2 separate regions of the Homo sapiens genome follow, and region 2 is linked to region 1. The links come from fine-mapping of genetic effects on gene expression. A gene starts in region 1. The other region holds a variant in brackets. All regions are shown on one strand. Distances are from middle to middle.

Region 1 (4,388 bases):
TTAGGTCATAGTTGCTACAAAGAAAAGTGAGACTGTGGGATGGACAGGGGATGGGAGGGAGGGAGGGAGATTATATTAGCATAATTAGTACCAGCTGCCTCAGCAATCTCTGAAATTTCAGTGGCTTAGTCGGACAAAGGATTTTTCTCTCACAAAGTATGATTGGGGTCGGTGACTCAGGGACCCAGGCTCCCTCTGTCTTCCGGTATCTCCAAGGAAGGAGAAGAAAGGAGGGATGGAAAGCCCCATGGTTCTGACCGAATGAAGCGATGATGTGGCATGGTGGATCTCCCGGGGAAGAGGGCTCCAGGGAGAGAGAAAAGCGAAGGCAAAAACTTCAGCAAGAAACGTGCTTGACTTGTCCCAAAAATAGCAAAGCAACCACTGTGGCTTCTTTCAGTGGAAAAGGGGGCTGGAAAGATAGCCAAGGGCCAGGCTATCTAAGGCCTCTCAGGCCAAGGGAGGAAGTAAGAAAATGCAATTGTTTGGGGTCATTTAGTGTCCCCTAAAAACTTTACAGAAGCATATGGGTGGTTATAATGATTGTGTAAACTAAACTGTGAATAATATGCTCCATTTTCTAGAGAAATCTTTACAAAATGTGTTACTGTATCTATTTCCCTGAGTGAACAGTTATAGGTTGTTAATACTGGAGCACAATTTTCTACATATCTAAGACCCTCTAGAGGTAGGGGTTTTCCTGCCACTAGTGGCCATAGGGCCAAACATCATGACAGCCTGTCCTCATCCTTCTGGAAGCCTGATGCGCGGCAAGCACAGAGGCCTCCCACTGGACTCCTACAAAGTAAGCACCTGCAGACGCCCATGCCCCAGTGCTACAAACAACCTTGGACACCCAATAATTCCTCAACCACCATTTCTACAGAGTAGCTCAACCAGTCTGTAAAAAATCATCACCTTAAACTCCTGGAATTTTCACACCTGAAATAAGCCCAAAGTTACTGTACTTAACTCTAATCTAAAAAGTAACTACTAAACGAACAGAAGGGGCGAAACTAAATTTATTTATCTTACATATTCTAGGTTAGCTTTTCAGAAGTAAAATGAGTCATATTCTAGAGGTTTAGTTAATGTGGACTTCATGTTTCTGACCACATGAAATGTTGGCATTGAAATTCAATGATCCCTGTTGCTTACTGTGAGAATAGTCAAAACCCAGAATTTTCAGCTAAAAATGTAATTTAGAATATGCTTACTGAATTGAATTAAGGTTTTGCATTAGGATAAACACTGTGGGAGTGATTCTGGTATAGTGGGTTTGTGTTTTTGTGCAAGATGCTTACAATACCACAGCCCTTAGAATAATTGTACACTCTTCTGGCCCGTTTCCCAGGTTTCCTTGAAAAGGGTCAGAGGACAGGCTGAAATTAATGACACATGAATGCAGAACCTCAATTAGAAGTGTCTTCAAAGGAATAATTAGGCTAGACTTAATAAGAGGGGATTAAGAGAAGAAAAAGCTTTGGGCAAATTATACACTGAAGGAAAGGAAGATAGGAAACAAGGCAACGATAGATTGGAGCTGATTATTTCAGGAAGTGATTTTTGTTCTATTTATCTTAAAAATAATATAAATATAGTGAGACATAGAGACAACAGATGGATGGATGGTCACTGACCTCTTACTAGGAGTGGCAATGTGAACATTGGGACGCTTCCTGGTGCATGTACCCTGCAATTGTTAGTTTAGTACCCCTATTCCCTTTGTGAAAGAGGCCAGGGATTTTGCTTCCCCCAAATAACAGTAACAGCAGCAAAAGCAGCAACAAACCCTTCAAATCTGCTTACCCTGCCAGATATTGTTTCACTTTCCTCATCTGTAAAATAGGGATTACTTTATGATGGAATCCCCACAACAACCCCCGGAGGTAGGTACGATATAAGTGCCTTGTTCCAGGTCATACAGCTAGGTAGTGTCAGAACACAGATTGAAATTCAGAAGCCTGGCTCCGAAGTTTGAGCTCTCATTCACCGCACTACATATATCTATGGGAGGATAGGCGACACATGCATGTAATAAATGTGTGAGCATTTATTGTACTGGAAACTCTCCAGCTCCTCCCTCTCTACATGATCCTTTGCTTCTAATTTTGTCAATCACAGCACCTTCCCTGGCCCTTACTTTGTTCTTGCCAATCTCCTCTCCTTGAGCAGAAGAGGGAAGGGAGCCTGCTCTGTAGGTGAACAGCTCCTCCGCAGAGGCATCCTGTTTTCTTAGTGCAATCACTAATTCGCATTGCAAAATGCTTTATTACATGACTGGGTTGCCATTCTAGGAGCATTCACTGAGCGCTCAGAGTGGGAACGTTTATCAGGCATGCAAATGCTAACTTACTTTCTAGAGAATGTTTAACTTAAAAGCCTAAAGAAATCTCAGATAATTCACTTCGGAGTAGAAACCTCCTTCAGCCGCGCTCACTACGGCGCCCGGCTTCGCGGCACCGGCCACTAGAGGGCAGTGGCCGCCGCAAAGCCGACGCGGGCGGTGGGCTCGGCGGCTCGGCCATCGCTTGCTCTCGCCTGGCAAGGGGCTCTCGGCCGTGGATTAGCGCAGCTGGAGACGTGGGAGGCCGCGGGCCCCGCCCCCGACCGGCGGCGGCTGCGGCGGCCCAGCGCGGCAGTCGGCGCTGCGAAGTGGAGGCGCTGCGAGCGGAGCCGCGCGGAGGGCGCGACCGGCTGGTCCGGGCAGCGTGGGTTTGCCGCCTTCGGGGCTCCAGTCCGCGCGCCAGGGCTCGAGCAGTACCGCGGGCCCCTCAGGTGGGCCTCGGCTCGGGACGCCGGGAGTCGGGACCGCCAGTCGGGGCGCCGGGACCATGGCGCTGCGCGCCCGGGCGCTGTACGACTTCAGGTCGGAGAACCCAGGAGAGATCTCGCTGCGAGAGCACGAGGTGCTGAGCCTGTGCAGCGAGCAGGACATCGAGGGCTGGCTCGAGGGGGTCAACAGCCGCGGCGACCGCGGCCTCTTCCCGGCCTCCTATGTGCAGGTGATCCGCGCCCCCGAGCCTGGCCCGGCGGGAGACGGCGGCCCGGGCGCCCCGGCCCGCTACGCCAATGTGCCCCCCGGGGGCTTCGAGCCCCTGCCTGTCGCGCCCCCCGCCTCCTTCAAGCCGCCGCCTGACGCCTTCCAGGCGCTGCTGCAGCCACAGCAGGCGCCGCCTCCGAGCACCTTCCAGCCGCCCGGCGCGGGCTTCCCGTACGGCGGGGGCGCCCTGCAGCCGTCGCCTCAGCAGCTCTACGGCGGCTACCAGGCCAGCCAAGGCAGCGATGATGACTGGGACGACGAGTGGGACGACAGCTCCACGGTGGCGGACGAGCCGGGCGCTCTGGGCAGCGGAGCATACCCGGACCTCGACGGCTCGTCTTCGGCGGGTGTGGGCGCAGCCGGCCGCTACCGCCTGTCCACGCGCTCCGACCTGTCCCTGGGTTCCCGCGGCGGCTCGGTCCCCCCGCAGCACCACCCGTCGGGGCCCAAGAGCTCGGCCACCGTGAGCCGCAACCTCAATCGCTTCTCCACCTTCGTCAAGTCCGGCGGGGAGGCCTTCGTGCTGGGGGAGGCGTCAGGCTTCGTGAAGGACGGGGACAAGCTGTGCGTGGTGCTGGGGCCCTATGGCCCCGAGTGGCAGGAGAACCCCTACCCGTTCCAGTGCACCATCGACGACCCCACCAAGCAGACCAAGTTCAAGGGCATGAAGAGCTACATCTCCTACAAGCTGGTGCCCACGCACACGCAGGTGCCGGTGCATCGGCGCTACAAGCACTTCGACTGGCTGTACGCGCGCCTGGCGGAGAAGTTCCCGGTCATCTCCGTGCCCCACCTGCCCGAGAAGCAGGCCACCGGCCGCTTCGAGGAGGACTTCATCTCTAAGCGCAGGAAGGGCCTGATCTGGTGGATGAACCACATGGCCAGCCACCCAGTGCTGGCGCAGTGCGACGTCTTCCAGCACTTCCTGACGTGCCCCAGCAGCACCGACGAGAAAGCCTGGAAGCAGGGCAAGAGGAAGGCCGAGAAGGACGAGATGGTGGGCGCCAACTTCTTCCTGACCCTTAGCACGCCCCCCGCCGCTGCCCTTGACCTGCAGGAGGTGGAGAGCAAGATCGACGGCTTCAAGTGCTTCACCAAGAAGATGGACGACAGCGCGCTGCAGCTCAACCACACGGCCAACGAGTTCGCGCGCAAGCAGGTGACCGGCTTCAAAAAGGAGTATCAGAAGGTGGGCCAGTCCTTCCGCGGCCTCAGCCAGGCCTTTGAGCTGGACCAGCAGGCCTTCTCGGTGGGCCTGAACCAGGCTATCGCCTTCACCGGAGATGCCTATGACGCCATTGGCGAGCTCTTCGCGGAGCAGCCCAGGCAGGACCTGGATCCCGTC
Region 2 (4,388 bases), 130 kb after region 1:
TACATTTTGGCCAGTGAGATAGGAGTGAAAGTTGTCAGATGGGCTCCTCCTGACAACTCCTTTAGAAGGGGCTGACCCAGCTGTCAGCCATTTGCCCTGGTGTGTCCTCCTCTCTACTGACTACAATATAGGTGTGATGGCTAGAGTAGCAGCTGCTATCTTGGGACAAGGGGAGACCTTGGGGTAAACAGAACCTAGGATAGTAAAGCAGAAAGATAGAAGAGCCTGGGCTGATGATGATGTGGCAGAACTGCCAAACAAGCTCTGGACTGCTAATCTCTGGACTTAACTTTCAGGAAACAAAATTAAACTCTATCTGGCTCAAGCCACTCTTACTTTATGGACCAAGAGCATTGGCAGCACTTGGGAGCTTGTTAGAAAGGCAGCTTCTCAGGCCCCTTCCCAGGCCAAATGAGTGACGATCGGCTTTGTAGCAAGATCCACAGGTGATTTGCATGCACAGTAAAGTTTGGGAAGCACTGCTCCAGATGTAGTTAGTTTCTCTGTTTATGAAATTATTAACTGATATATCCTGGGAAATAATGAATTCTATTTGCCGGTACTAAAACATGGTAAGAATGATATAACCATAGGATAAAACAACTAAAATGCCCTGAGTTATTTGGATACAAAGAAAGAAAGCATTCATGTCAATTAGGTAATTGATGTTCCAGCCACTATACCTGGCACCAGAGAAGTAAAGATATCCCTGCTCTAGACTCCATGGTCTAACAAGGGAGACATATAGATACTGTGTATTGTGTTGCATTGCATTATAAGAACCGTTTGGATGCAATAAGAGCTATGCCCAGGTGTTCCGGGAAAACAGATGAGGGGTCTAAGCCTTCCCTCCTGGGCTAGGGAGTAAGTTAGAGAAAACTTCTTGGAAGAGATGTCACCTGAGTAGTTAAGAATTATCTTGCTTCTTCCCCCAGTTTCAGGGATCAGAGGCCATCCTTTGTGGGCTTAAGTCAGCCTGCTGGCCTCCCCAGCTGCTCCTTAAATTCTAAGAGTTGGCATAAAAGACACAGGTTACAACACGAATGTCTTCATCCTACACGATCTTTACTTTCTCTGTTCACAATGTGGGCTCCTTGGCTCCATTTTACATATACAGGAAATTTGGACACCGAATAGAGAGTGAATTTCAAAGGATTCAGAGAAGGCAAACCCATATGAGTGTTTAGAGTTCATTGATCACTAGTATCTTCTTAATTTTGTGAACACCGGGTTCTGAATTCCTTCATTGACTAGCTATTTCTCTTCATGTCTTCTACAAACATTCTGAAGTTGGAAATCCTTTTTATTGGTGTTTAGAATAAGTCAATGTTTTTCCTCTCTTTATATTTCTACTTGATATTCCTCAGTTTTCTGTATTATTAAAAATGAAATCACATTTTTGGATACTTGTGGTTTGGCCGGCTGGTTGGGAAACTTTTCTGGCATTCATTATTGCTTTTTTCTTTCCATTTAAAGAACATTTACTGGATTTGGTACTTGGCGAAAGAAACTGACAAATTAAGAAATGAGAGAGAGAATAAATGCACTGTGCATGCTGAAACCCCAAGAAGACTTTTTTTCTCCTACTTTTTATGGACCTGAGGTGTTGGAAATGGAAACATTGTTTCAAACAAAATCCAGATTTTTATCTCTCTCCCCAAGAGATATGGCTTTAATCTTTTTTCTTTTCTTCTGCTGCTTTTCTGAAACACTCTGCTAGGGGCTGATTTCCTCTTCTTTGAAACAGACCAAAATATCCCTGTGGGTGAAAAACATGCCGGAAGTGAAACAGAAAGACTCAGCTTGCCCCGTGTTCGTGGTCTGTCAACTTCTCTAGCCAGTGCCTGGATCCACAGCTCACTGCTGCCGGTTGCCCTGCGTTAGCCGCATTGCGGGGGAGACAGGAGAGGCTTGAAGGCTTTTTATATTCTACTCTCTTCTGAAGAATTCACAAGTTAGCAAGCACTCAACCACTACTAACCAGAAGGTATTGCCAACCATAACAAACTACACCCATCAACAAGGCCTCCCTCATATTGCAATCCCAGCAGAAAATGATGCAGGAAAAGCACTCCCCAAATCTTGGTTGCCTGCCACCCAAGTTCTTATGCCAAGATATGTGTTTAGCCAGTTCTAAGATGCTGCCACCTTTTCATGTGTCCAACACTAGGCTTTCTACCATAGTTCCCTCCACCCAGAATGTGTTACTTGGCTCCTACAAATGCAAGAGGAAGTGCCCTTCCCTGAACAGAAATCAAAACACAGGGTGAAACCACGACTTGTTTTCAACAGGCCTCCTGTTGTGAGCCCTCCCAGCTGTGCTGCCTTTCTCCAAGAGAGCTGGGACTGGCGGCTCGAAGCGGTATAAATGGCCTGTGCCTCTTCCTGAGGCTGCCTGTAACAAGTGTCTCAAGAGCAATT[C/T]GTCATCGGCTGGAGATTACCAACTTGGCTCACTGAACCAGATCGTGCTTTGTCACATGTGAAATTCTGATGTTCTAATACATGGCTTGTTTGCAAACTACGCCTTAAATAAATATATTCAGGATATTTAACAATATAGTGTTCTGAATTAGACCATCATTTACATCTGTATTTATTCAATAATCATTTACTAAGTGCCAAATACATGCCGAGTACTATGCCGAGTGCAACAGTTAAAACGCAGGAAAAAGATCGTATTGCCCTTACTGGGCTATAAATTCAAATCTCTGTCTCATCTCATCAAGCAATCTTTCCGCCTTGGCCTCCCAAAGTGCTGGAATTATAGGCATGAACCACCACACCTGACCCAGGAGAGTTTTCTTTAACGAGTGATGCTTGATCTCAGTTTTGAAAAGTATAGAGGTGTTCACCTAGAGGAGAGGAAAGAACAGAGCATTCTGGAAAGAGGACTGTGGAGCAAAGGCAAAGAGATATTACATAGCCTGGCATGGTTTGGGAACTATAAGCAGTTGAAGTTGGTAGTGAATGGGGCATGAGAGGAAGGGGAGGTAGGCAGAGGCATGATCGTAGAGAACCCTGTATTCCAATCCAAGAATCAAAGTCATCATCCTGAAGGCTGTGGGGGCAATATTGAGGAGATTCCCAGAAAATGAGTGATATTTACTTGTCTTCATGACAGCAAATTGAACAGCAGGGGTTGAAAACAGGGGAAGGCTAAGTAGCAGATCATTGCAATAGACCAGAAAAATGAAGGCTTGAAACTTCAACGGGCAACAGGGATGAAGAGTTGAGAACAGATTTGAGAGAAGTGAAAGGAGTAGGATCTGCAGAACTTGGAGACTGACCGGATTCTGGAAGATTAAGGAGATGGAGATGTCAAGGGTGAATGGTTCCCAGTTTATTATTTAGGAACCCGAAGGAATGCTGGTGTGTGCGGAATTGGTGGGTTCTTGGTCTCACTGACTTCAAAAATGAAACCACGGACCCTCGCGAAGAGTATTACAGTTTTTTTAAAAAAAAAAAAAAAAAGACGGAGTCTCGCTCTTTAGACCAGGCCGGACTGCAGTGGCCCTATCTCGGCTCACTGCAAGCTCCGCCTCCTGGGTTCATGCCATTCTCCTGCCTCAGCCTCCCAAGTAGCTGAGATTACAGGCCCCCGCCACCGTGCCCAGCTAATTTTTTGTATTTTTAGTAGAGACAGGGTTTTACCGTGTTAGCCAGGATGGTCTCGATATCCTGACCTCGTGATCCACCCGCCTTGGCCTCCCAAAGTGCTGGGATTACATGTTACAGTTCTTAAAGGCGTCGTGTCCAGAGTTTGTTCCTTCTGATATTCGGATGTGTTCAGAGTTTCTTCCTTCTGGTGGATTCCTGGTCTCGCAAGCTCAGGAGTGAAGCTGCAGACCTTCCCGGTGAGTGTTACAGCTCTTAAGTCGGAGAGTCTGGAGTTGTTCATTCCTCCGGGTGGGTTCATGGTCTCGCTGGCTTCAGGAGTGAAGCTGCAGACCTTCCCTGTGAGTGTTACAGCTCATAAGGGGAATGTGGACCCAAAGAGTGAGCACCAGCAAAATTTATTGCAGAGCGAAAGAACAAAGCTTCCACAGTATGGAAGGTGACGGGTTGTCACTGCTGGCTCGGGCAGCCTGCGTTTGGTCTCTTATCTGGCCCCACCCACATCCTGCTGATTGGTCCACTTTACAGAGAGCTGATTGGTCTGTTTTACAGAGAGCCGATTGGTCCGTTTTGACAGGGTGCTGATTGGTTCATTTACAATCCCTGAGCCAGACACAAAAGTGAGTGCTGATTGGTGCATTTACAAACCTTGAGCTAGATAGAGTGCTGATTGGTGTATTCACAATCCCTTAGCTAGACATAAAGATTCTCCAAGTTCCCGCTAGACTCGGGAGCCCAGCTGGCTTCACCCAGCGGGTCATGCACCAGGCAGC

Which allele goes with the higher level. Alleles are on the strand shown, and positions count from the first base shown. SD is a standard deviation of normalised expression in the study named.
As copies of C replace T in region 2, the expression in atrial appendage of the gene that starts at base 2,641 in region 1 goes up (small effect, 0.35 SD a copy in GTEx).

What was found.
Region 2: its variant is fine-mapped to the expression of SNX18 in atrial appendage (GTEx, PIP 0.98).

The regions. Positions count from the first base shown.
Region 1 is chr5:54,515,119-54,519,506 of GRCh38, forward strand. It overlaps SNX18 (sorting nexin 18), which reads left to right and starts at 2,641. Exons shown (of 2, transcript NM_001102575.2): 1 at 2,641-4,388. The coding sequence starts at 2,835. RefSeq lists silencers at 2,395-2,636, 2,517-3,076 and an enhancer at 3,549-4,388.
Region 2 is chr5:54,644,593-54,648,980 of GRCh38, forward strand. It overlaps a transcript of SNX18 not described here. Among named protein-coding and RNA genes, the nearest start is that of LINC02998, 97 kb to the right of the region's middle. The variant C/T (reference allele first, on the strand shown) is at 2,422.